Linked DNA regions of Homo sapiens: region 1 is reported to be linked to region 2. The links are microRNA targets in miRTarBase. Many come from high-throughput screens and were not tested one by one. Region 2 holds a microRNA gene; the other region holds the end of a gene's coding sequence.

Region 1 (3,104 bases), not on the chromosome of region 2:
GATGATGATTTGATGCCCATCAACCTTAGCTTGGTGGAGGCTTCATCTGAAAGCCAAGAAAAGAGCGACACAGACAATGACTGGCCAATCTATGTGGAGTCGGGTGAGGAAAATGACCCTGCTGGAGATGATTCTGATGACAAACCACAAATTCAGCCTAACTTATCAGACCGAGAGACACTTACGTAGCAATAAATTGGTGGGGAAGAGGAGGTTTTAAAACTTGTTAGTGCTCGTTCTGTTGTTGAAAGATACCATTTGTCCAATTTTGTGGAACCCTGAGAGGAACATTTTTTCACTGTTATTATATGTGCATTTTTATTAGACTATCTGATAGAGGTTGGATTTTGTGACTCAAAGGACAGATAACCTTTTTGTGTGGTGCCCTTGGTTTCTGAGGGCTTTGCTGGCCACTCCTTAATTCTGAGTGAGTCAAAGCAGGCCCTGAGGTCTCCTGTTTTTCTTGCTGTGTGTCCAAACTCTGGTTAGGAGAAAGATAAGAAAATCTCCAGGCTTGTTTTTATATTGATTCAGTCCTCTGCATTCCTTTGTTATCATCCTCTTTCTCTAAAAACCATTAAGTTTTGGGATCAAGTTTACCTTTGCCAAGCCTTTCCTAATGAATTCCACATTAAATTTTCTGGCAAAGTATTAAAGAGAAACCTTCATTGATATAAAGCAGGCAGGGCGGTCTGGCTACATGATCATAAAAGGTACTCCCTAAATCTAGAACAATTTTAAAGGCTTGGAATACTTATGGGCAGACGAACATGGGAATGATCTGAAAGGCTCATTATGGCATCCTGACTTGCCCAGTTGAATTAAATTTTAAGTTAGCCCTGAGAAGGGAGGCTATGACCCCAGGTCTGGATGGTTTCCCTGTCTGGTTTGGCATTTGACGATTCTACACATACAACCTGTTCTGTTATCATAAAACAACTCATTTGGGCAAAACTCAAAATGCTCCCCTACTTTTTCCAGCAATTTCCAAAAGCTGGAGCTGTGTAACTTGGAAATGTAGCTGCCTCTGGCATTCTTTTACTTAGTTTATGCTGATGTAGGGCAGGTGAGCCCAAAAATTGGGGCTTAGCCCAGAGGAGTTCTTGGCTTCACCCAGGAAAGAATTCAAGGGCAAGCCAGTGGTGTTAGACAGCAGCTTGTATTGAAGCAGCAGTGCCCAACAGCAGCTAAGGGGCCGCTCCTCGTGGAGCAGGGCTACACCATAGGCAGTGTGCCCAGAGTAGTAGCTCAGAGGCAGGTCGGCACTTATATTTATACCCACTTTTAGTTACATGCAAATTAAGGGGCAGATTATGCAGCAATATTTAGGAAAATGGTGGTAACTTCCAAGCCGCTGGGTGGTTGCCATGATAAGGGGCAGTGACTTCCAGGTGTTGCCATGGCAATGGTAATTGACATGGCACAGTGATAAGTGTTTCTTATGGAAATCTGCTTCCTGCACCACCCTCCCACCACCGCCCTGTTTTAGCTAGTCCTCAATTTGGTCCATGTCCGAGTCCGGCCTTTGGAGTTGAGTCCTGCCTTCTACCTCCTTGCCTAGAACTTTAATTGGAGGGAAAGTATAAGCCCATAATGCCAAGTAACATTTCTAAAATGTTCATCTTTTAAAAGATCTTCATGAGGGAAAGGGAAGGTTAGTAGCAGAACAGGTTTTTAAAAGCAGTCTACCTTTCGCCCACTTTCCAGCCACACAATTATTGTAACAAAAGAGGCTGAACTCTTTAAAGGGCTAAAGGGCAGGCAGTGTTAGGAATTCGGAATGTAATTGAAGGCAATTTCCATAATTTTGTCTTATGTTAAAATATCCAAAATGGATTTTAAAAGAAATCTTCTTGTCTTCCTTTAAGTGTAGTTGTCTTTCAAAAGGTGGTAAAAGTCACTTTTATTTCTACCTCTTGAACAACAAAAAAGTCAAAAACATTATAAATTGGCTTGTAAATGTTAGCCAAAGCATTAGACAGGTGTTTAAGTCGTACTTCTCAATAGTAGTTAAAACTGGAACAGTGCAACTCAAACTCTGGCCCACAGAGAGGCCCTGTTCTGTAAACTGTTTTCTACCAGTCTGCTACAAGGAAAGTCAGAAATTAAGAATACACATATAGAAATGTTGATAACACTTTGACATTGCTGTGACTCATGGCTTTGTCTTCTTGAGTGAGGTATGGACCAGTTCAGTTCTGGTCAGCTAGAGGGCCACATGGTGCAGAGGTTGGATACCAGCCTGTACAGCAGGACCACGTATTGGTCTGCAGTAGAATGGAAAATTTAAAACTTCTCTTATCACAGGTAGTTCGATAAATATCATTCTTGGCTGTGTGCGGTGGCTCACGCCTATAATCCCAGCACTTTGGGAGGCCAAGGCAGATGGAACACTTGAGGTCAGGAGTTCGATACCAGCCTGACCAACATGGCGAAACCCCGTCTCTAGCAAAAATACAAAAATTAGTCAGGAGTGGTGGCATGTGCCTGTAATCCCAGCTACTCAGGAGGCTGTGGCGAGAGGAACACTTGAGCCTGGAAAAGGTTGCAGTGAGCTGGAATCGTGCCACTCCACTCCAGCCTGGGCAACAGTGTGAGACCTTGTCTCAAAAAAATAATAATAAAATAAATAAATAAAAGAAAAATATTCTAGATCAAGAGTTACTCATTGAAAATTATCAGGGACCAGAGATATTTGTCTTATCTGAAATAAAAATACTAGCTGTGGCCAGGCGCAGTGGCTCACGCCTGTAATCCCAACACTTTGGGAGGCCAAGGCAGGTGGATCACCTGAGGTCGGGAGTTCAAGACCAGCCTGGCCAACATGGAGAAACCCCGTCTCTACTAAAAATACAAAATTAGCCAGGCATGGTGGCGCATGCCTGTAATTCCAGCTACTCAGGAGGCTGAAGCAGGAGAATCGCTTGAACCCAGGAGGCGGAGGTTGCTGTGAGCCGACATCACACCACTGCACTCCAGCCTGGGCAACAAGAGCGAAACTGTCTCCAAAAATGTATACATATATTTGCTGTTATTTTAAAAGAGGGATCTCAGCAAAAAGGAAACCTAAATGGATGTGTAGAAGATTTACTTGGCCAGGAACA
Region 2 (3,231 bases):
AGACCCATAGTGTGTATTGTACAGATTTAGATGAAGAAGATCAGAATGTTGGGTTTCTAGGTTTTTATCTTTTTAGAATGTTTAAGATAAACATTTATGGCCAGGCACGGTGGCTCATGCCTATAATCCCAGCACTTTGGGAGGCCGAGGCGGGCGGATCATGAAGTCAAGAGATTGAGACCATTCTGGCAAACATAGTGAAACCCTATCTCTACTAAAAATACAAAAAAAATTAGCTGGGTGTGGTGGCACGCGCCTGTAGTCCCAGCTACTCGGGAGGCTGAGGCAGGAGAATTGCTTGAACCTGGGAGGCGGAGGTTGCAGTGAGCCGAGATCGCGCCACTGCACTCCAGCTTGGTGACAGAGTGAGACTCCTCTAAAAAAAAAAAAAAAGAGGAGCATTTACTAGTGACATTCTAAAGGAGCAGAAGACCCTGAGTGCTGGTTTGAGAAGTTTAGATTTGTTGTGTTGGAACACTATTTAAGGTCCATGAATTAGAGAGTAATGTGGTGGGTGTGCTGTGTCAGAAAGGCTTCACTAGCAGTGTATACAGAATGAGTGGGAGTGAGTGAGCCGTCTGGAGGTAGGCAGGTCCTCTGGAGAACTGTAGTAATTCACAAAGGAGAGGAAGAAAACTCAAAATATGATGATAGCTATGGAGTCGAAAGTAAGATAAGAAACACAATGAATAGTTGGCGGTCCTATTGATTAAGTGGAGAAAAATTATATTGAAGTTGCAAACCTAGGAGAATGGCCAGATAATACAGATTATGAAATAAATGGAGAAGGGACCAATTTTGAAAAAGTTAATTTTCCTTAAAAACATAAGGAAATAAAAGGGTCCTGAAGTGAGAGAAATCAAAGATTGGAGAAGGAAAGAGGGAGAAATTATGCCACTTTTAATTTCAGCTACTACCTCTATTAGGATTTGGGAGTTATACTAATAGAGGTAATAGTTGAAATTAAGAGTGGATGAGTTCTGGTATGAAGTGGTTGATGGGGACAACTGTTGATTGACAACTGCATTTTAAGGAGAGGATACTGATAGTAATGGGAGATGGGATGAAAGAATGCCCAGGCAGAGAGGAAATTTAATAATTTCAGGAGTGGGGAAAGAATAAAGACAAATGTTACTGCAGCCTACCTTTCATTCTTTTACTGTGCATGAGATACTGTATTTGCTGGATGTTTTCCTGTAGATACCACATTGTTCTTCCTCCGGGAGTGGCATGTCAGAAAATTTGATGATTATTTTAAAGATGTTGAGTTTTATTCCTGAAATTGAATATGGTAACGGAAAAAGGGTCTTGGGTAGTTTTTGGTGTCATATGCTGTGTTCCTTTTAGTTCATAAAATCTTTCATCTTGTTTGAATATCTGTGGGTCTAAAAAAAAAACAGCTAATTTTTGGATAGGTAAAAGTCCAGATACTTTGTACATTTTAATTGATTATTTAAAAAATATTCCCTGGCTTTTAAAACTTGGCTAATACAAATTGTAAGAATCACCATCTTTTTAGAAGAACATACTGTGAATTCAGAATTTTTGCTGGCTTAGTGCTTGTCAGCATGGAGCCTGTTCACAGGAAATGCTTTAGAATCAGAGTCAGAGACCTGTGACACTTCTGGGGAGTCAGTATGTAAAATAGTTAGAGTGCAGGCTCCAGAGTCAGTCTCCCTGGTTCCACTGTTCACTAGAAGTATATCCTTGGATAGATTACTTAGCTCGTCCATTAGATTTGCTGTCTGGACGTGTCAGTAGTAACAATCTCAATGTCACACGGTTATTGAAGAGATCCATCATAGAGCTTACATTCTAGTAAGGAGAGACAGGCAGTATACAAATACTATAAATACACTGGAGGAAAACATAGTGGGGCTGATTATAGTCGATTTTTGCTCTTTTATTTCCGGTAACAGTAAAACAACTCTGATAAGAAAAGGTTTGAACATGAAGGCAGACCTGAAGCGAGTGAGGGAGTGAGCTATGCAGCTAACCAGGGAAGAGTTCCAGGTAGTGGGGATAGCAAGTGCAAAGGCACTGAGGAAAGGGCACATGGGAGGGGGCAGCAAGAAGGCCACTGTAGCCAGAGCAGTGAGTGAGGGAAAAGGAGAAATAATTTCAGAGATAGCGAGTGATCAGCATGTATAGGGTATTAAGCATAAGAAGGACTTTGGATTTTATCCTGTGTGAGATGGGAAACCATTGGAGTGCCAGAGTAATTTTTTCTTAAAGCTAGTCTGCTTGTCATTTCTTTTCTTAAAAATGCCTCAGTTCCCTGTTGCCTTTGGAATAATGTTCACGTACTTTACTTTGGCACACAAGGTCCTTCACAGTCAGGCCTCTGCCTGTTTATTTAGCATCATCTGCTTCTTTCCCACATGTACCCTTCACTTTAGCCAAGTGGGATCACATGCAGCTCCCTGGATGGGTCATGATGCTTTGTGTCTTCGCGTCTTTCTGTACCGTTTGCCCTGTGAGAAGCCCTCCCCCTCAGCTCACATGGTCACTGGCTCTGTTTTAGAGGGTCCTCTTTGTGCTCTTGCTCTCTCATCATTTCCACCCGGAGCCACTTTGCACTTAAGCTGCTTAGGCTTGAAACGTGCTGTGTTCTTTTACCAGCCTTGATTTTACTCTTGCCACACCCTTGCCGGTTGAAAGTATGCCTATCCAGCTCAGACACTGCCATCTTCTGCCTCCTTGGGACCCTCAGAAACACTTTGTAGCTCTCTTCTACCTAATAATAATTATTTGGAATTAAAATGTTTCTTTGCCTTCACAAAAAATCCTTGGGCTAACTTATTTCAGTTTTCTTTGTAGCTCCTAGAACAGGGTCTTACAGACATTTCATATTCAGTAGGTATTCATGGTGTGTAGGATTCATAGTATAATTAGAAAACTATTGGCTTTCAAACAACTAAGGGCCAAAAGCAGCAAAAATGAATGCACAATTAAAATGAGTTCCTATTAACAAAACAAATTTACTGTAATTATGATAGCTAGGTAATCCTTGTTCTCTTATATATTTATATATACTTACTAGTGGCACCAAATATTAGTATACCCAGTTTGAGATGCAGTTTGTTGAAATATATTTGGACACAGCCAGGCGTGATGGCTCACATCTGTAATCCCAGCACTTTGGGAGGCTGAGGTGGCAGGATCGCTTGAGCCCAGGAGTTCAAGAACAGCCTGGGCAACATAGTGCGACCTTGTCTCTACAAAAAAAAA

The links. Region 2 holds the annotated microRNA hsa-miR-5690 (UCAGCUACUACCUCUAUUAGG, at 907-927, shown strand). A microRNA usually pairs through its seed, bases 2 to 8, with sites in the 3' UTR of a target mRNA and lowers its output. Matches are read on the target gene's strand: a 7mer-m8 pairs with bases 2 to 8, a 7mer-A1 pairs with bases 2 to 7 and ends in A, and an 8mer does both.
Region 1: the mRNA of ZBTB8B is a reported target of hsa-miR-5690. Seed matches in the 3' UTR shown: 7mer-m8 at 1,018-1,024.

What each region holds. Positions count from the first base shown.
Region 1 is chr1:32,485,230-32,488,333 of GRCh38, forward strand. ZBTB8B (zinc finger and BTB domain containing 8B) reads left to right here. Exons shown (of 4, transcript NM_001145720.2): 4 at 1-3,104. The coding sequence ends at 189. Among named protein-coding and RNA genes, the nearest start is that of ZBTB8B, 22 kb to the left of the region's middle.
Region 2 is chr6:35,662,456-35,665,686 of GRCh38, reverse strand. It overlaps MIR5690 (microRNA 5690), which reads left to right and starts at 898; the gene lies at 898-970. The region is part of intron 1 of FKBP5 (FKBP prolyl isomerase 5); the gene reads left to right. RefSeq lists enhancers at 1,990-2,489, 2,490-2,991.